Regions from separate parts of the Homo sapiens genome. Here all the other regions are reported to be linked to region 1. Evidence: microRNA targets listed by miRTarBase, many of them from high-throughput screens and not tested one by one. Region 1 holds a microRNA gene; each other region holds the end of a gene's coding sequence.
Evidence for each region. The annotated mature microRNA hsa-miR-1268a reads CGGGCGUGGUGGUGGGGG and lies in region 1 at 2,157-2,174, opposite strand. An mRNA with a match to its seed (bases 2 to 7 or 8) in the 3' UTR can be bound and repressed. Matches are read on the target gene's strand: a 7mer-m8 pairs with bases 2 to 8, a 7mer-A1 pairs with bases 2 to 7 and ends in A, and an 8mer does both.

Region 2: the mRNA of NDST3 is a reported target of hsa-miR-1268a. Seed matches in the 3' UTR shown: 7mer-m8 at 2,576-2,582.
Region 3: miRTarBase lists AIP as a target of hsa-miR-1268a. The part of its 3' UTR that is shown has no 7-base or 8-base seed match.

The regions. Positions count from the first base shown.
Region 1 is chr15:22,223,152-22,230,415 of GRCh38, forward strand. MIR1268A (microRNA 1268a) reads right to left here and starts at 2,178; the gene lies at 2,127-2,178.
Region 2 is chr4:118,254,718-118,261,717 of GRCh38, forward strand. It overlaps NDST3 (N-deacetylase and N-sulfotransferase 3), which reads left to right. Exons shown (of 14, transcript NM_004784.3): 14 at 876-3,917. The coding sequence ends at 995. LOC105377392 (a long non-coding RNA gene) reads right to left here. Exons shown (of 3, transcript XR_939113.3): 2 at 4,259-4,358. Among named protein-coding and RNA genes, the nearest start is that of SNHG8, 21 kb to the right of the region's middle.
Region 3 is chr11:67,489,799-67,496,798 of GRCh38, forward strand. It overlaps AIP (AHR interacting HSP90 co-chaperone), which reads left to right. Exons shown (of 6, transcript NM_003977.4): 4 at 240-416; 5 at 518-659; 6 at 990-1,305. The coding sequence ends at 1,195. PITPNM1 (phosphatidylinositol transfer protein membrane associated 1) reads right to left here. Exons shown (of 24, transcript NM_004910.3): 15 at 6,380-6,550; 16 at 5,640-5,804; 17 at 5,279-5,427; 18 at 5,048-5,158; 19 at 4,446-4,562; 20 at 4,124-4,272; 21 at 3,890-4,039; 22 at 3,612-3,795; 23 at 3,136-3,264; 24 at 1,970-2,498. The coding sequence ends at 2,235. MIR6752 (microRNA 6752) reads left to right here and starts at 447; the gene lies at 447-517.

The DNA.
Region 1 (7,264 bases):
CCTGGGCTGAGGCAATCCTCCTGGGTTGGCATCCCACAGTGCTGGGATTACAGGCCTGAGCCACTGCGCTCGGCCATCTATGGCTTTTTATCCCCACTATAAGACAAGGAAGAGGCATAGCTCAGGAGTGAGCTGAGTCGACACCAGGTGGCGCCCAGGTCCCGAGCCTGCTCTGTCCGCAATGCAGCCTTCATCCCCCGACCTGCACGTCCCCTCTCATCCCAGAGCACACCCTCCGGGGCCATCATCCCCCCACCCGCAGGGCTCACCCTCCAAAGGACCCCAGGGCCTGCGTGGTGGTCCGTGGACTCACTTACCAACCCTCCTTCTGCTCGGCCTCCTGAAGCCCTTGGATGGCTCGGAGGGCACGGGGACCAGGTACTAAAGGATAATGATGGCTACACACATGTCCCTAAGCTCACTACCTGGGGACGCCCTCATTCTGTCTCTCAGTCTATTAACAGGGGAGATGGAGCCCAGGAGCCCAGGAGACAGCTACACACACACACACACAAGCACACACACGTCCCTGAGTTCACCACCTGGGGATGCTCTCATTCCGTCTCTCAGTATATTAACGGCAGACAGAGCCCAGGAGATTGACGGCTACACACACACACACACGTGTCCCTGAGCTCACCACCTGGGGATGCACTCATTCCATCTCTATTAACAGGGCAGACAGAGCCCAGGAGATTGGTGGCCACACACACACACACACACACACACACACACACACACACACGTCCCTGAGTTCACCACCTGGGGACGCCCTCATTCTGTCTCTCAGTCTATTAACAGGGGAGATGGAGCCCAGGAGCCCAGGAGACAGCTACACACACACACACACAAGCACACACACGTCCCTGAGTTCACCACCTGGGGATGCTCTCATTCCGTCTCTCAGTATATTAACGGCAGACAGAGCCCAGGAGATTGACGGCTACACACACACACACACGTGTCCCTGAGCTCACCACCTGGGGATGCACTCATTCCATCTCTATTAACAGGGCAGACAGAGCCCAGGAGATTGGTGGCCACACACACACACACACACACACACACACACACACGTCCCTGAGCTCACCACCTGGGGATGCCTTCATTGTGTCTCTCAGTCTATTAACAGGGAAGACGGAGCCCGGGAGACTGACGGCTACACACATGCACACACAGACACACACACACACGTCTCTGAGTTCACCACCTGGGGACGCTCTCATTCCATCTCTCAGTCTATTAACAGGGCAGACGGAGCCCAGGATTGATGGCTACACACACACACACACACACACACACACACACACCTTCCTGAGCTCACCACCTGGGGATGCTCTCATTCCATCTCTCAGTCTGTTAACAGGGCAGACAGAGCCCAGGATTGATGGCTACACTCACACACACACGTTCCTGAGCTCACCACCTGGAGACGTCCAGCACTCCTCCCACAGCATCTTCGAAGCTCTCATTCTGTCTCTCAGTCTATTAACAGGGGACACAGAGCCCAGGAGAGGTCTCTGTCCCGCGCTGTCCTGGCAAATCTGGGTCCCGATTCTGAGTTCAATGGTGTTAAAAAATAATAGGCTATGTCCCCACTAAAGTCTAAATATAGCCAACCCCATTTACCCAGGCTGTGCACATCACAATTCCACTTGTAGAGGCTCCTACCACCATCTTAGGTCCATCCCCAGAAGGTCCATCCCACCCCCACCCCGCCCCCGTCAAGGTCTCACTCTGTCACCCATGCTGGAGTGCAGTGGTGCAATCTCAGCTCACTGCAACCTCCACCTCCCAGGTTCAAGCGATTCTCCTACCTCAGCCTCTGCAGTAGCTAGGACTACAGGTGTGTGCCACCACACCCAGCTAATTTTTGCATATTTAGTAGAGTCGGTGTTTCTCCATGTTGGCCAGGCTGGTTTCGAACTCCTGACCTCAGGTGATCCACCCACCTCAGCCTCCCAAAGTGCTGGAATTACAGGCGTGAGCCACCGTGCCTGACCTCAGACACCTTTTGGTGCTTCTGGTTTGAGATGGGGTCTCACTCTGTCACCCAGGCTGGACCGCAGTGCTGCAATCTAAGCTTACTGCAGCCTCCACCTCCTGGGCTCAGGTGATCCTTCCACCTCAGCCTCCAAAGTAGCTGGGACCACAGGCCCCCACCACCACGCCCGGCTAACTTTTCTTTCTTCTTTTTTTTTTTTTTTTTTTGTAGATACAGGTTCTTACACCATGTTGCCCATGCTGGTGTCAAACTCCTGGGCTCCAGCAATCCTCCCACCTCAGCCTCCCAAGTAGCTGGGACCACAGGCACCCACCACCACGCTGGACTAATTTTTCTTTTTTTATCTTTTTCTTTTCTTTTTTTGTAGATATGGGGTCTTACCATGTTGCCCATGCTAGTGTCAAACTCCTGGGCTCAAGCAATCCTCCCACCTCAGCGTCCTGAGTAGCTGGGACCACAGGCACCCACCACCATGCCCAGCTAAATTTTTTTTTTTGGGGGGTAGAGAAGGGATCTTACCAAGTTGCCCATGCTGGTGTCAAACTCCTGGGCTCAAGCGATCCTCCCACCTCAGCCTCCCAACACGTAAACGGGTGCTACATTTCTGCACAATCCCCGCAGTCTCCCTTATTCTGTTTTACAACTACTCCCACATAAAGTAACATAGAAAGGTGAGCCCCATTATTCCTTTAGAAGGTAGACTGGAGCTTGCAAGAAGCTGTAGGATAAAGATTCAGAGGTCAACTGAGATAAAATGAAACACCCAGGTGATTTTAAGCTAATCAAGGGCCCCTTTCACGTGGGTGATTTTAAACTACCCGAGTGACCCTTTCACACAGGTGATTTTAAATTAATCAAGAGCCTCTTTCACACAGGTGATTTTAAACTAATCAAGTGACCCTTTCACACAGGTGATTTTAAACTAATCAAGACCCTCTTTCACGCAGGTGATTTTAAACTAATCGAGTTCTCCTTTCACAGAACTAAAAGGGGTGGTTAATTTACACAAATGCGCAGGCTACAGCCACCTCTCCTTCCTAGGGACTTCGGGCCGAAAATGCCACCTGTCACACCTCCAATCCAGGCACTGCAGGGCTGTTAGGAGGGGAATTAGCAGCTGGGATACCCCAATCCTACAATGAGGGGGGTTAGCAACCCCTCCTGAAATACCAAAAAGGCCACAGCTTCCTGCAGACGCTTAAGAACCATGCCAATCACAACTGCTTTCCTGAAAAATGCAAGAAGTCCTGGTGAGGGCTGGGGTTGCAGGACGCTTTGCACACCACGGGTAACAGTTTGTGGGGGCGCTTCTCTGGGACTGGCTACCTCTTACTGTCCCCTGGACCAGGGGGGCCCTGCTCTCATCCTTCTGGCATCTCCCAGGCCCCTGCCCCACTCAGAGCTCCACCGCAGGGGCTCCTGAGGCTGGACTCAGAACCGCTGGATCCCATCAAGGCCCCCAAGGCAGACATCTCACAGATGTCTGTGCTGGGGGGTGCGTCTGAGGCTCTCCTTGCTTCATGAGGCTGCTTCACCCCATTCTTGTCTCCCCTCACCTCCTGACACCCTGGGTTCCCCATAGGCCCCCCTCCCCTGCACAGATTTTCACCTAGGCTCTGGGAGGTTGGTGGAGTCCTGGGTTCTAGAAGACCTCAGAGACCCAGGGCAGAGTGAATGTCAGGGGTTATCAGAAGCAGGGGCTGCCCAAGACCAATTGCTGAGGGAAGAAGGAGTGATGAATGAGATGGATAAACATGTCAGCTGTTTGGCTTTCCACAATCATTATCTATTTTCAGCCTCCGTGTCCTGATGTTTAAAATACAGCAGCTAAAATATCTGGTGGTCTTTTCTTCCTCTTCTGAGTGCAGCCACGACATGCCACATCTCTGCCCATGGCCTTCTTGCCTTTGTCTCTAGAGGGTGCCATCAGGGATGGATCTGTCCATGCAGGAAGGAGCCTGAACCCCAGACTCTTGGACCTCAGACTGGGAGAGGGTGTGGGTGAAGGCACGTGGACCAGTGATTGATTAATTGATTGACTGATTTATAGACAGAGTCTCACTCTGTCACCAGGCTGGAGTGTAGTGGCACGATCTCGGCTTACTGCAACCTCTGCCTCCCAGGTTCAAGCGATTCTCCTGCCTCAGCCTCCCGAGTAGCTGGGACTACAGGTGCCCACCACCACACCCAGCTAATTTTTGTATTTTTAGTAGAGACGGGGTCTTGCCATGTTAGCCAGGCTAGTCTCGATCTCTTGACCTCATGATCTGCCCACCTTGGACTCCCAAAGTGCTGAGCTTACAGGTATGAGAGTGCAGGGCCAGAGGATGGCAAAGACAGGGGCTGGCCCCAGGATCCTCAACTGTTGGCATCAGGACCGGACTCAGGGCCTCAGTCTGGCAGCATGGGCGTCACGCTGCCTGCCGGGCAGAGCCCTTTGCCCCACCTGAAAGCCCTGTGGTCACAGTGTAGAGGCTGGAGCGGCATGCTGGGGTGGGAAGTGCTGTCCTTGTTGCTCTGTCCCCTGGCTCAGGAGCCCCTGAGAGTGGCTTCTGCTCCCCGAGCTTCCTGCGCTCCCTGAAAGTTGTGCATCCAGTGCTGAGTCCTGAGGGCCTGGGGGTGTCAGGCCTCCTTCCTGGCTGTGACATGTGGGTTGGAGATTTGCCTTTGTTTTAGTGAAATGCCAGTGGTCAAATTCAACAGGAAAGAGGAAAAAGAAAGCATAAGCCTGAGTCCAGGGTGGAGGATGGTGGCATTGAGGAAGGACCTGGGGCCCTGCTTCTCCCACTGTCTCCAGTCCACACCCTTCTGGAAAGGTCACATGATGGCTGCTGCAGCTCCAGGAGTCACTGTATGGACATGAAAACATCCAAGAAGAGGAGGCATCTCCTCCTTTGCATCACTTTTACTGGAAAGGAATGCTTTCCCCAGAAGTCCCCACACCCCATGTCCCATGCAGCAGACCTGCCTCCAGGTCCTGCTGTTGCAGCTGAGTGCCAAAGGAGATGGAGACAGTGAGGACGTGGAGCTCACAGATTCTGCAGCACTGGCAGGCCTGCCGGCCAGGACCAAGATCACATGTCTGCTCCAGCATCCTCGGGCTTAACCCCTGAGCTGTCCTGCCTTACTCTCTCCTGAACTCTCTGGCCTGTTGCCACCAGGCCAGCTTAACAGAAAATACTAGAACCTGTGGTTGTTGGTAAATGTTTAACAACTGGCTCTCCAGAGGTCAGGGGTTGGGGTAAGCCCCACTTTGAAGGTTTGCTGATTTCCAGGGTATAAACACTCCCACTTTGGTTGATTTCAAGGTACCAATGCAAAGTCCCTGAGTGTGGAGTAGGGAAGAGACGCTCACCATCGGCTCTCGTGAGCCCTACGAACTGGCCACAGTGTACCCCTGACTAGAACCCATGGGAATCCATACCTTAGAGCTGGGAGAAGGGATGCCCTACCCAGGCTGCAGTGCAATAATTAAGGCATTGAAGGAGCTGGCTGGACACAAATGAGACCATTTGTTGGATCCCTACGATGTGCTGATCACACACAAATGTCATGTCGATGCCTCATAACTATCCCTTTGTCTGATGAAGAAACTGGGATTCAGAGAGGTTGAGGCACCTGGTGACTTGTATGGAATCAGAATCCAAACCCAGGTCTGTCTTCTTCCAAAGGCTGTGTCCTTTCACCCAAAACAAAGGCCTAGATTCAGAAGAGACCCAGCTCACTCTCATTCCACCCTGATGACATGCCAGGGGCCAGGATGTTCAAAGTGGAGCATGACTCACAGTCACCGAAAAGTAGGAAAAAGCAAATGTCCATCGCTGAGGAGTGGATAAACGAAACGCGGTCCATCCATACAACTCATACCATCAGCCATAGAGAGGAACGAGGCTCTGACACACCCTACAACGCGATGAACCTTGAACATGATGCTGAGTGACAGAAGTCGGACACAAGGGACCACGTATTACACGATTCATTCCATTTACATGAGAGGCCCAGTGTGGCCAGTCTACAGGGACAGAAAGTGGATGGGTGGCTGTCAGGGGCCAGAGGGATGAGGGAATGAGGAGTGACTGACAACAGATATGGGGTATCTTTGTGGGGTGATGGAAATTTTCTAGAACTAGATGGAGGTGTGCACAATGTGTCAGTGTGCATAGTGCCCCTGAAATTATAAAACAAACCAGGCGGTGGAGGATTCCTCGAAAAGGGATTTTCCTTGCTCCAGCCTCCCAGGCTGAGGCTCTTGTGTCACTTTCTCAAGTTCACTGCAGGCAGCTTCCCATGCTACCAGGTAAAAAGTAAAGGAGGCGAGGCCAGGCATAACGGCTCACACCTGTAATCCCAGCACTTTGGGAGGCTGAGGCGGAGGATCACCTGAGGTCAGGAGTTTGAGACCAGCCTGGCCAACATGGAGAAACCCCATGTCTACTAAAAATACAAAATTAGCCGGGTGTGGTGGTGCACGCCTGTAGTCCCAGCTACTCAGGAGGCTGAGGCAGGAGAATTGCTTGGACCTGGGAGGTGGAGGTTACAGTGAGCCAAGATTACACCATTGCACTCCTGCCTGGGCGACAAGGGTGAAACTCAGTCTCAAAAAAAAAAAAAAAAAAAAGTAAAGGAGGCATTTTACATGCATCTTTTGCACTAAGTACTCTCAACTCCCCTGGAATTGGGGAATGCTATTAACCCCATTTTACAGTGAAGAAAACTGAGGCTCAAAGAGAAATTAAGGAACTTGCCCATGAGCCCACAGCCAGTCTATGGGAGAGCCAGGACTTGGGCCCAGGCCTGTCTGATTCCAAAGTATTGCTCTAAACTCTTCACTGTAGTAAAGCAACATCCAGGTTGCATGGGATTTTCTCTTTCCAGGATGCTAGTTCAGTGGCATGGCAGCTCAGAAGGCCACATAGGCTGGAAGCTTCCATGTCTCCTAGCCTCTGCCCTCCCTCAGCAGGAACGAAGGACTGGAGCTGGAAGGGAAGAGCCCTGTGCTGAGGGCGTCCCAGGCCCGTCCGCCACATCCCTCCAGGACACTCAGCTCTGTTATGACTCGGCTGTGTGGCATTCGTTAGGCCTCATTTTGCTGACCTTAAAAAGTGACCAACAGCAGAGATCAGTCGTCCTCTACAGAGGCTGTGCTACCCCCGGGGGCCTTCTGGAAGTTTTCAGGGGTACAACAAGTGGGACAGTCCCCCAGATGAAGAACTCCCCCAATCCCTCTGCTTTTCACTGTCCCACCAGGCCCTGGTAAAT
Region 2 (7,000 bases), not on the chromosome of region 1:
AATACATTACATTAACTGAGAACCCTAAGATGGTCTGAGGATCCTAAGGTGGGCTAAACTTATTAGAATACTTTAACAAAACCTTGAGGACTACTTTTTGTGCCTTGCCTGATAGATGCAGGGTCTGTCCTCAATAAACTCATAATTAAATCATATACGGAAGAGAGAGAGAGTTTCTGTTATTTTGATAAACAAACTGCATTTTCAGAACTCCAATTTTCTGTGGCTGATTAAAATATACCTTCAGAGCACTTTGAAAACAACCCTTCTTTTCCCAAAAGAAATTGACATACAATTTCTATAGTATTTCAAGAAAGTAATATAAAATATATCATATGCATTTATGTCAAAGCTATTTCCCCGTAAATTTATTAAAGCTAAAATGTTTAAGAGACACTGCAGAATATCTTTCTTAGCATTTTGTTTTACTCTGGTCTAACACAGACCTTATTAAATTTGGAGGTAGAGAAAGATAAGAAAAACACAACTTTTCAGGATATCCTTCCTTCTCAACAAGGTTACTGAGTAATCCATATTGGGTTTATTTAAGGGAGTGGCTGATTTTGTGAAAATAATGTCCACAAAGCAGGTAAGAGTAAAGAGGTCTTCACAGAGGTAATGAAAATACAAATGTGTAGGAGGGATTAGAGTGGGCAGTACTGTCACCACACCTTTTGCCTCTTCCTAGTAAGAAAAATGCCAGTACCCAAGACTGTCAGTAAAATATCATAGCATGTGCTAAATAAATAGTCCATATGCTTAATACAAATTTTAATCCAGATCTGGTATACTTGGTACTTATTTCAACGTAGTCAAAGTGTATGAAATGTAATAAACAAAATAAAATGTACTTTTCTCTCCTCCTCTCCACTTAGAGCAGGACATTTCTGTCAAGCTACTATCGAGATCACAACGTGGAACTCTCAAAGCTGCTGCACAAACTGGGTCAGCCTCTGCCATCCTGGCTGAGACAGGAGCTGCAGAAAGTAAGATAGCACTGAGAGAAAACTTGAGACTTCATCGTCCATGTAGAACACACCTTTTCCAAAGCTTCCAGAAGCTACCAAAAGGCAGTTGAAAAATATACCTCTTCAAATGAGAAAAAAGAACAGTTTCTTCCATGTGCTGGCACGTGGATGATTAGAAAAAAAGAAAAAGTATGTGTTACAAGCCTTGAGGCCTGTGGCCTTTCTCTTAACCCATATCTGAGCCTGTGGGATTATTGTAGACTACTGTGCACTCATGTGGAAGTCAATTGCAACCAACATAAATATCAAACACAAATGCAGAACTGTTCCATTTCATAGTAATATTTACACTTTTATATATCAACTAAGATTGTGTCTCTGTAGGTTTTTAGACCACTGTTTGCCTGTACGATGTTTTCTTATTATTTTATTCTATAAAGTGTCCTATGAAACAAGAAGCAAAATAAACATCACAATGTAGCATAAAATGTCAAAAGCATAACACCCATGAAAAATGCTTGCCAAAATTTAAATCCACTTAAGTATTTAGAAATAATTGTAAATTATAATTTGTGCTAGATCAGAGTGGAAAAGTTATATATGAGTGTTATCTGCACCAAAAAAAAATAAGTGCTATAGCAAAAGTGATTTTTTCATATACATAGTCTAGTGAATATATGTAAAAATTACTAACTCTTCCATCACAACGTAATTGTTATACTGAAATATATACTGTAAAGCTGTTGGATGGTAAATAGAAACACATCAAGTACACCAAAACAGTAAATAACAATGTAAAGTGTACTGACTGAATCCTCTAAAAGGGAGAAATTGTAGGGGTCTAAAAACATATCATCGAGAATTCTATGTCCACTTGCTGTAAGCTGTGAATCTATCCCAGTAGTCCTCACTAGTTCTACAGAAATGCATGCCTAGAGTCTGAGGTATGTGTCATCTCCAGAAACAGGTTGACTTTTAAATGTGAATAGCTATTTTTAATGCTCCCCAAAACAAAACCTATTAAACTAAAACTAAAAACAGTTTCCCTAGATGATGTGGTTAGGCTATTTACATTTAGGTTATTAAAAAATTGCATTTTCCCAGATAGTTCAAAATAAAATTATGTAATGTAGTAGAGATTTATAACAAAAAACAAATTAATATATTATTTGTAATCTAATGTTTGCAATGATACTTTTGATATAAGGCAAAGAAACATAAGCAGAGCAGAGGCCCATTTTTGAAAATATTTCACCCATCACTCTGGTGGAAGTAACAGATCATAGGTACAATTAAGGATTAGCTACTAAATTAAATGCAGGAAGTACAAAGATGAGCAAGTCATGCTCTTGAAATATATTTACATTTCAATTGTAAATAATATATATGGTTAATAAAGTTTCCAAAAAAGAAAAGAATACATCATACTTATTTTCCTGTTAATATTTACTTAATTTTTTTTTTTGAGAGGGGGACAGAGTCTCACTATGTCACCCAGGCTGGAGTGCAATGGTGTGATCTCAGCTCACTGCAACCTCCGCCTCCTGGGTTCAAGTGATTCTCCTGCCTCAGCCTCCTGAGGAGCTGGGATTACAGCCATGCACCACCACGCCCGGGTAATTTTTGTATTTTTAGTAGTGACAGGGTTTCACCATGTTGACTAGGCTGATCTTGAACTCCTGACCTCATGATCCACCCACCTTGGCCTCTCAAAGTGCTGAGATTACAAGCGTGAGCCACCATGCCCTGACTACTTAATTTTTAAATGTACTGTACATATACATAAAATTTAAGTAGTAAATTAATTCCCTGCTATGATTATAAGCCTTTATAAAATATTATCAAAGGTATGATTAGAAACAAATGGGAGGAAAACCCATAGTAAAAATATTTTCATTGTCATTTTAATGGGTAAAACTATCAATTACTAATTAGAAAATGAATTGTGAGATCCACTTACTATAAATTTTTAACTGTACATTATAATTACTTTTTTAAAGTTTCATGTACCTAAAGCATATGCTAATTTTTAAATATACTATTAGCAGAAAAAATTGGAAAAATCACCAATTTTTAAGACTCTTGACTCTAAAAGCAAAATCAAAGTGATTTGGACAAATATGGGAAACACAGTCTTCATGCTTACTGCTGTCTCTTTTATAGCAGCAGATGCCAGACATGCTAGGAAAATTACTATAGTCTTCCATCTCCACCAACTTAAGAAAACTGGCTTAGGAAGGTTAAACATGAGAATAGGCCTCAGCAGTTATATACAGTGTCATGTTTTCATTTGGCAACAACATTTATTCTAATAAAAAAAGAAAAGAAAAACTGATACATTTATGCTTTAATGGTAAGATGTACATTTGAACTGCTAAGCAAAGCTGCTAATGGCCTATTTTGTTTAGGTAAATCGAGTTGACTGAACACTTCATCCTTTTAAATAGATGTCAAAAACATACTCCGTGTTTGTATAAAGACAGGAGAAAAAGGAAGAGATCTTACCAAAATTTATTCATTCACAAGTACATGTATTACGCTAGCTAGAGCAGCAAACCTGTGAAAGGATTTTTGACCACTCAATGTGTCTTGAAGACAGCATCAAATTCTAGAGGACATGCATACTTTCCACATTATATACTCCAACTGGTTAATATGCTAATCTGAAAGTAACATAAATACATATGAGAGAATAATGAGAGATAATCTGATTTAAAACTAGCTTTGTATAGAATTCCCTTTTTCATTGTTTAAAATATGAAACTTCCTCAGGAAGAAATGAAATGGTTATTTCAATGTTTATAGCTGTAATATTCTTGTCATTCACATTGAATGAAAATTACTGGAAACATTTTTTTCTCTGAGTTTTTTAAAATAAAAAACCTAGATATAATTCTGATAGTAGCATGGTACCTCATATGTACAACAATAAACTGATAGGAAAATGAAGAGTTTGGACCTGGTGATTTTAGGTAACAGTAGGTATTTTATTGTTTTGGCCTGGGAGTGAGTGGGAGGTGGTTACGGAACATAGATACTACTAACATAATTCAAAATGAAGAGATAGAAAATTTTCAAGTAGGATATATATCTATCCTATATTTATAAAACCTTTCACAGATCCTTCTCCTCCTAAATTTATATGTTACTTGTAGTGAATTTTTTTTTAGTTCTAATAAATATAATGCAGTTTCTAGGTCATTTATGGGACCCTAGAATAAGAGAATAAGAGAATCACACAGCTGTTACTAAATGGACTTCAGAACAGGAATGATTATAGCATTTCTTACCCCTAGTATTCTGTTCTGCTCCATACCAATGAGCCCATTTCTTTCCTCAGAGTTTAAAAGGTGTTCATCTCTCTTTTCTAAAAATCTGGCAAAACAATCTCTGCAAAAAAAGGAGGGAGGGGGGATTCGGGGAGTTTAAATTTAGCCATTTATCTTCATTCTCCACACATTTTCTTTTCTCTCTTCCAATCCCTTTCTTTTCTAGACATCAGCTTTTCACATGTTGCAACCCACCCTATCTCGGGGCACCAGCTGAATACCCCACAGGCTTGCCTCCCACACACACAGCTCACTGATTGAGCTGGGACATCTCATCTCATCTTCTGCCTTCAGACTGTGATTTACAGCATTGGCTTCCCTGTTCCTCAGGCTTTCAGTCTCAGATTGGATTACACCGTTAACCACCCAGTCTCCAACTTGCACAGCAGATTATGAGACTTCTCAGCCTTATTAATTCGGCTTTTTTGGAGAACTCTAAGACACACAGTTTCACTTAGATTCCATCCCCCCAAAAATCTGCAATCTACTTTGAGTAAGCCTTTCACCTATGGCCAAGGATACCTAACAAAATTTGAGGGCCACTTGTCCCCAAACCAGTGCTGCTACCAGTTCTTGCCATTTATTGTCCCTAATTTGTTATCTATAAAAGTTCTCTATATACTCAGTGCCCTTAATAAATGTTACAGCGTAAAATTTATTCATTTATCTGTTAGTACTGAAACTAATAAATAAGTTGAACCTCCTTCCATTAATCCTGTAACTATCCTCATCTTTAAGTATCTATCACTTCTCAGTCTATTTCCAAAAGTTATAAATACAAAAATTAATAAATCACTAAAGTTGGAATTAGTTATATGCTCACCATTTCCTCTGGAGCATCTCTTAGAGAAAGAGGAATCATGAATAGTATCAGTAAGTTAAAAAAGACATTCACTTGCCAGAGTCAAGTCAAGTATCTCTTTTACTATACTATAGTCAGAGCTCTCCAGAGAAATAGAACTAGGGGCAGATACATATACATATATATATATATATATAAGCACATATATACACACATATAAGCATATATATATATATATATACACACACACATACATAAGTATATAAAGACTCATTATAAGGTATTGGCTTAAATGATTTTAGAGGATGCAAAGGCCCATGATCTGTCATCTGCAAGTTGGAGACCCAGGAAAGCCAGAGGTGTAGTTCAAAAGCTTAAGAGCCAGAGAGCCAATAATGTTGCAGTCTGGGTTTGAAGGCCTAAAAACCAGGAGCACTGAGGACAGAAGAAGTTCAATGTTCAGCTCAAGCGGCCAGGCAGTTAACTGGACCTTCTTCCACCTTCTCATTCTATTCATGCCCTTAATGGATCGCATGATGCCCAACAACACTGGGGAGGGTAATCTGCTTAACTCAGTCTACCAATTGAAATGCTAATCTTATCCAGAAACACCATCATAGCCACACCCAGAAATAATGTTTCACCAACTATCTAGGTACCCTGTGACCCAGTCAAAGTTGACACATAAAATTAATCATCACATTTACTTAGCAATCCCTTTCAAGGAAGTCAAACCACATTTTACAAATTAAATGCTCACAGCATAAGGTCTCCAAGATATTGTTAGAAAGAATGTATTTGCCCACATTTTACCATACAGAAAAGTGAATTACACTGAATAAAATGTGAGATAGTTCGAAAGCACCCAGAATCTGTGACAAATCTTACAAAACTGTCTACATTAAGCTGCTTCTTGGTTTTGAGGGAATACATTAAGTGTAGGAAATGCCTGCTGTCTACATTTCTGATGCCAAAATGCTCTATTTCAAATCAATAACTGAAATGGAAACCAGACCTTGCTCTTAAATATTATACATAATTTATAAAGTTGGACCAAAGAAAATGAGCCTTCTCTATTTGATAAATAATATTCTGAATCTAAATTTTTTTCAATTTCAACATTAAACAGAAATGCAAGCTCAACATGCTATATACTCCTAGTGCTTTAGTGTATCATTTCAGAACTTACTGTAAATCCTTCAAAGCAAACAAAACTTTTAAAAGCCCACAAAACAAATATACTATCAAAAATAAAGCTTGCTTCACATATAAATGAATAAATTGACAAATTTTTAATAATTTAAAGATTATAATTTTAAAAACAATAAAAAGCTATGAAAATATAATATTGATAAATTCTCCCTCCCACTTGTGATCATCCTGAGAAAACCATACTGTTTTCATTCCCAGTTAATTACAGGGATGTCCTCAGTGCAATCAGAATAGCAAAAAAGATAGATTGGACTATAATTGAACATTTGTTCTTTACTAAGTAACATTGGGTAGGTGACTTTTCTGATCTCAATTTACACATCTGTCAATGGAAGTCACATGTGATGATTGGTAAGGAGGGGGAATGCTTTTCTCCCTGCTTTGTTTAACATGTTCCAGTAGATCAATTATTGTAACATGTGATTCTGTCTCTGATCTACTCTCCCATAGAGGAGGAACCAATGAATTATCTAAGTGGTAAAACTGGAAGCAGAAATTCCGCTTGAATAGCTCAACCTATCTCCCTCACTTCTCTTTGGGATCTACCTGCAAAGATGAGCCACCCTGGTCCTCTTGGCCTGTGTTAAGTTTAGCAGACACTGACGTTTATTTAAAGCCACAAACAAAACCAAAAGAAGAGCTAAAAACAAAAATAAAAACATAAATACATGCTCAAAAATTAGGAAGAT
Region 3 (7,000 bases), not on the chromosome of region 1:
TCTGCGAGGGCAGGGCTTTTCACCGTCTTGTTCACTGTTCTATTCTTAGCACTTGGCACAGTGCTGGGCACACAGGAGATGTGACATCGATGTTTGATGCTTTTTGAGTGACAAGTAGCTCTGCTGCTGGTGTGTGATGTCTGGGGGCCCAGCCAGCCCAGATGTGGGTCAGGTCTGCTGCTGACGGACGCAGCTGTGGTGTCCCCGAGCCCCGCTGTGATATGCCCCATGCCCTGCAGGTGGAGAGCCCTGGCACGTACCAGCAGGACCCATGGGCCATGACAGACGAAGAGAAGGCAAAGGCAGTGCCACTTATCCACCAGGAGGGCAACCGGTTGTACCGCGAGGGGCATGTGAAGGAGGCTGCTGCCAAGTACTACGATGCCATTGCCTGCCTCAAGAACCTGCAGATGAAGGTACTGCCTGGAGGCTGAGGGGGAGGATGGATGGAGGGGGGTGTGGAGCCAGGGGGCCCAGGTCTACAGCTTCTCCCCGCTCCCTGCCCCCATACTCCCAGGAACAGCCTGGGTCCCCTGAATGGATCCAGCTGGACCAGCAGATCACGCCGCTGCTGCTCAACTACTGCCAGTGCAAGCTGGTGGTCGAGGAGTACTACGAGGTGCTGGACCACTGCTCTTCCATCCTCAACAAGTACGACGGTGAGCACCGGGCCCTGGGCTGCCGGGGGCTGCGAGTGGTCAGAGAGTGGCCTTTCTCCTGTCACTGCTGGGGTCAAGACCTAGCCTTTCACAACCCCCATTCTGAGCTCCCACGGGGGCCTGACTAAATGCCTCTACTCGGCAGGGCTGTGGGCCCCATTGTGCCAATGAAGCATGAATGGTGTATTGGGGGTGGGGTGGCATCCTCAGGTCAGGGAGGGCTCTCTCTCCCCTGTGGGCCCATGGTGCCAGGAGACATGAGGGCAGGCAGCTGGCCAGGATCCCCCCTCATGCCCTTGCATGCCCACTGCCCACTGGCCTCCCCTGCAGACAACGTCAAGGCCTACTTCAAGCGGGGCAAGGCCCACGCGGCCGTGTGGAATGCCCAGGAGGCCCAGGCTGACTTTGCCAAAGTGCTGGAGCTGGACCCAGCCCTGGCGCCTGTGGTGAGCCGAGAGCTGCGGGCCCTGGAGGCACGGATCCGGCAGAAGGACGAAGAGGACAAAGCCCGGTTCCGGGGGATCTTCTCCCATTGACAGGAGCACTTGGCCCTGCCTTACCTGCCAAGCCCACTGCTGCAGCTGCCAGCCCCCCTGCCCGTGCTGCGTCATGCTTCTGTGTATATAAAGGCCTTTATTTATCTCTCTCTGAGTCTGCTGAGCTGCTCCACTGGGAGAGCCGGGTCATCACCTGGCATTCCTGGTACTTGGGTGGCTGTTGGGAGGCAAAGAATCAGGGTTCAAATCCTAGCCCCTCCACCCACCAGCTCTGAGGCTCTGGTGTCCCTGTTAGAGAAATTACGATGAGCTCTTTCACCAAGGAAGTGTCTCTCGCTGGCCAGGGCTGGGGCGCCCCAGGAGCCCACAGTCTTAAGGGGGAGATGAAGTGGGTACAAGCTAGGTAGCTGGGCACCTGAGGGAGGTAGTCTCCTGGTGCTGCCCTCCCACTCCAGCCTCGGATCCCATGGTCTCCTGGCCTCGGTGTCTGGGGGCAGGGTTTCCATGAGAAGCTACGCTGGGGCTGAGGTGAGCCGGGTTGGGCTGGGGTGGGCTGACTGTCCAGAAAGAGGAGAGGGCCGAGCGCTTCGTGAGACCTTTTGAGGCCCAGGCCCCCATCCTGACCTGCCTGTGACATGGATGGCCCTGGGCGTGGGTTTCGTGCGACCTTTTGAGGCCCAGGCCCCCATCCTGACCCTGCCTGTGAGCTGGATGGCCCTGGGTGTGTGTTGGCCTCTCTGTGCACATCAGTGTCCCCTGTTGAACTGGAAACTGGGCTGGCTGCCCTGTGATGCCAGGCATGGGGTGAGTGGGTGGGGTGCAGGTGGCGTTTATTTTCATGGATTTATACACACTGGAAAAGCCTCTGCGCCCATGCCCACGCCCTCCTCCCTCCCCCCGGCGCTGGGTCCCCTCATATGAAAGGGAAGTAACACCGAGGAGCACACGGAGATATAGGGTGTGGGGCTGGGGGGGCCAGCGCTGGGGCCAAAAGTCTGGGTCCCCAGCCTCCCACACGCAGCCCCTCGGGCCCCTTGGGTGTGTCAATAAATAACCCAGGTCCAGGCTGGTGTGGGCCTCACTCCTCGCTGTCCAGCTTCAGGCTGATGCTCCGTGCTTTGCCCCGTGCCAGGGTGGTGGGTGGTGTTCCCGGGCCCTCACGCTCCGCCTGGCTGGGGCCCCTCGAGCGAAGCAGCTGGCTCTGTTTGCGCAGGAAGTCCACGGGGGCAGCCACACCATAGCTGCTCTTGCCCAAGGCAGCTCTCGGGGGTCCCGAGGAGGCATGCGAGTGCGAGCCCGCTTCCAGCTGGCCCAGGTGGGCCACATAGCCGTCTGACAGGAACTGTGGGCAGAGGTAGGCAGCGATGAGGGGGTGCTGGCCAAGGGCCCACACGCTGCCCTCCACGGTCCTCCAGAGGCACCTGAGGCAGGCTGGGGGACTGGTGGCAGGCTTGGCACAGCCTGAGCTGAAGCCTTCTCAATAGATAGGACCCCAGGCTGGGAGCCAGGGCACCTTGGCTGTGCTCCTAGCTCTGCCCTTCTCTGGGCCTCAGTCTCCTCATCTGGAAAATGGGGTCTTAGAGGAAAAATAACAGCAGCCAATGTTTAGCCAGCACTTGCTTTGTGCCCAGCCCTGTGCCTGTTGATGTGATCTTCATAAGCTGACATGGGCAGTGCCATGATCATTTCCATTTACAGATGGGAAGCTGAGGCTCAGAAAGGTCACAGTGGAAAGCCATGGCCGAGTGGAACCAGCGCCTAGGGTCTTGAGCACTTTCCAGTGTGGGCTGTCCCCTCTGGCTTGCCTGGCAGCTGGCAGCTCAAGCTGCTCATGGCCCTTGTCCTCGGAGGATCCCAGGTTCCCTGGAGGCCGGTTAGGCCTTCTCACATCTTCCCCAGAGTCCGTGGTTCCCAAGGCCTGGGACTGAGGGCCCTGCCCCCTGGTGGGGTCCTGTTCCTGGCCTTCACTTGGGCCTCACCTGGCACTGCGCCTGTAGCTTCCGCACGGCACGGCCCACGATGTAGGTCTGGCTCGGGGACAGCCCCAGCGCCGCGTATACAGCCACATCTTTGGGAGACCCATAACCGGCCACGATGTTCAGTTCTACCTGTGGCGGGAGATGCCAATCAGCCGCCCCAGGGGTGGAGCCGTGCAGCTGGGGGCGGGGCCTGTTGGGCTTCCCCAGATTGTTCTGGGGGTGGGTCCAGGCAGACGGAGGCGAAGACAGGTCCCAGTCCCACGGGGACAGGGGCGGGACCAGCTGCATCTCCCTAGTTGCCCCTAAGTACACGGGGCCCCTCAAACTAGGGGAGCAGGACCGTAGCGGGCCGCTGCAGTCAGGCAGGGCCCGGGCCGATCCAGTTGGGAACAGATGGGCCTCCGCCGATCCGGGGGTGGAGGGTAAGGGGGAGCGGGGGCGGGGTCAGGACCCGGAGCCTCCCCCAGCCGCCGCACCTCCTGCACCAGGCTCTGCAGAAACATTGCCTTCTGGCGTAGTGGGTCGTGGGTGAGGCCGTCGCAGAAGGAGACGACGCCGTGGGGGAAGTTGTGCTGCGACAGCCATGCCACCACGCGGTGCTTCTGCATATCCGGCCGGCCTGTGACATACACGATCAGGTAGCCGGAGTCCTGCCAGTGCCTGTGGGGCGGGGGCAGCGGTCAGCTCCGCTGGCCAGGGGTGAGGGGCCGGTCACCCCGGTGAAATGGGTGGTGGTGGCAGTGGCAACTCCTACCTGACCACGTCCACGGCGCCAGCTCGCACCTTGGGGTCGCTGCCCATGATGGAGACGCTGGCGGTGAAGGAGCCGTCGATGCTGAAGACCACAGCCTCCGTGCCGCGGGCCACCACAGTCAGGCAGCATTCGGCATAGGTGTGGTCGCCCCTGCGGCCCACGGGGCGGGGCGTGAGTGGCGCGGGGCGAGGCCTGGCGGAGCCCTCCCGCAGAGGCCCGGCCAGCCGCGCTCACCTGACCACCATGCGCACGGGGTAGACACCAATGCCCAGCGCGCGTTCTGGGGGAACTGGGAAGGTGAGGCGGCCCGAGCTATTGGTGACTTCGGTGCCAAAGTGGATCCACTTGCCCGACAGCGGCTGCGTCATGATGTAGACATCCACCTGGAGGGGAGAAGGGGCGGGAGGTAAATGGGGGCCCTGCGTGGAGGTGGGCAGAGGCGGGGCTGTCGTCGGGGATGGGTGGGTCTAGGGGCACAACCACCAGGGACCAGGAGCTGTTCCGAGGACAGGAGATGGGGCCATGGGACCAGGCGACAGGGCCTCTGGGTCCTGACCTTCTCTCCAGTGAGCGTGACGACGTCCAGGGGCCCGTACATGAAGCGCCCGCTTAGCACCTGGGGGCGGCCCTCGCACACCACCGTGTCGCTCGCCCGGTGGTTGGAAGTGACGTTCTAGAGGGAGGAGAGGGCGTGAGTCCGCGGCCAGCAAAGGATGGGGATGCTTGGGGAGGGGGAGCGGGTGAGGATCCACACGCAAACACCGGGGTGGGGGCCTAGAGGCGGCGGGGCATTGAGGGAAAAGGGCAAGCCCGGGGGGCGCACTTTTGTGGACCCCGGCCTGAGAGCCTGTGTGTGGGCCGCGCCTCCAGGGGCAGAGCTGTGACAGGACGGGATGCAGAGGATGAGGCGAGGTGGGGACCAGCGCAGATCCAGACCCTAGACCCAAACTTCCCGCAGAGGGCGGGGAGACCAGCGGTTCCCAGGGGCGGGGCTGGGGCAATGAGGTGGGGCCAGGACCCCAGGGGCGGGGCAGGACTGGGAGAGAGTTGGATCGGCTAGGACCCGAGGAGGGGGGTGCTGGGGGGAGGGGCGGGGCCTCTCTGGTGAGTGGGCGAGAGTGGGCGAGTGGGCGAGGGGGCGAGGGGCAGGGCACCTACCCGGATCTTGACCTGCGTGCGTTTTCGCTGCCACTTCTCCCTGGGGAAGGCCGGGCTGTAGATGGACGGCTCCTCGCATTCCGCCAGCTGTGGCCGCTCCTTCTCGATCACCTGCACGGGACAGGGGGCGAGGCCTCTGTCTCTTAGGGGAGGGAGGGCTGCCCCTCCCCCGGCCCAAAGCAGCCCATCCCCGTCCCATTCTCATCTCCCATTCCATATTCCCAGGCCCACCTGGCGCAGGATGAACGCCACCACGTCGGCGGACTCCCAGTAGCTGGCGTGGAAGAGGTGGGGCAGCGTGACGGTGGGAAAGGCGGTGAGCGCCTCGGGGCAGTACAGCGAGTAGTCGATCCGCTTGGTCCCCCACCAGCGCTCCAGGACTGCGCGGCCATGGCAGCGAGTCAGGATGGCCTCCTGCCCCACACCCATCTGCCTGGGCGCTGGGTGCTCTTCCCTCCCCCCTTTTCACCCAGCCTGCTCTTTGCCAAGTCCAGGCTGTGTGCTGGGGGAAAGGGTTTCTCAGCTGGGCTTCGGAGGTGGAATACGGGCCTCCCCCACCCCCAGGCTGGACTGCCTAGGCTGGCTGACTTACTCTTAACCACCTCACTGGTGGTGCTGGGGGCGGCTGGCTGGGCCGGGGGGTCAGTGGCCAACTCACTGCCCTTCCAGAAGGCACCGCTAGTAGAGGTGGGTGTTGAGGGCACCAGCATCTCCAGCTCCTCCAGAAAGAGGCTGGAGTGCGTCTGCAGAGTGTCGGCTGGGGGAAGGAGGGCAAGGTCAGCAGGGGCCGGCCAGGTGGCTCTCCTGTCTTCTCACCCAGGGCTCCCCGCACCTCTGCCATCTTCCTGTGGCCCCTCTGGTCAGGTCCTGGCTGAGGCTGCACTGTGGCATTCTCTCCTCTCAGCCCAGTGGCCAGCTGCACTCCTGCCAGAATGCCTGTTGCCACCGCCCCAAACGCTGCACACCTGTGCCCAACACAGGCCCGCTTGGCCCATACATACCTGGGCATGCCCCGCAATAAATGTCTGCAGCACACCCCACACAGATGCAGCAGCGCACACATGCTGGCTGCTTGTATGGCAGCACACCAGCATCATGCTGCCAGGGGGCACCCTCTCTAGCTTGGCTAACCACCCCCACCCAACTTCTAGGCCCAGGAGGTCAGAGGGTCCTGGGGATCCAGACCCCCCCAGGGGGAAGGAGCGCCTGGTCCTGGGAGTGGTGGCCTGAGAGGTTTTCCATCGTCTGGGAGCCTCCTCATGTCTTCTGCTACCTCCTCCCTTCCTGTGTGTGCCCTCCTCCTTCTCCCCTTTATCTTGTTTGGGGGCGTACCCAGCAGCAGGGATGAGCCATCTCCCAGGGGGAACTTCTGGTAGCGGGGCACGGTCAGTGGGGCGATGGCCTGGAACTTCGGGGCCAGCAGGGGCTCGAGGCGTGAGGCGCAGGGGTCAGCCGCGTGGAAGAGGTTGTAGATCTGTTCACAGGCTGGGCGCATCTGGGCTGCTGGTACCCAGAAGACAGAGAAAGATTGTGGGGTCAGGGTTTCAGCTGGGCACTCTGGGAGGTAGGGGGTGTGGGAGCAGCACCCTGATGTCTGGTGTGACCCCGAGCCAGCACTTCCCAAACTGCACTCCCTGGGAAGTCAGTAGGGCCCTGCTTAAAGTGAGACAGGGGCTGGGCACCGTGGCTCATGCCTGGAATCCCAGTACTGCGGGAGGCAGAAGCAGATGGATCACTTGAGGTCAGGAGTTCGAGACCAGTCTGGCCAACATGGTGAAACCCCGTCTCCATTAAAAATACAAAAATTAGCTGGGTTCAGTGGCTCATTCCTGGAATCCCAGCACTGTGGGAGGCAGAGGTGGGTGGATTACCTGAGGTCAGGAGTTCGAGACCAGCCTGGCCAACATGGCAAAACCCTGTCTCTACTAAAAAAAATACAAAAATTAGCTGGGC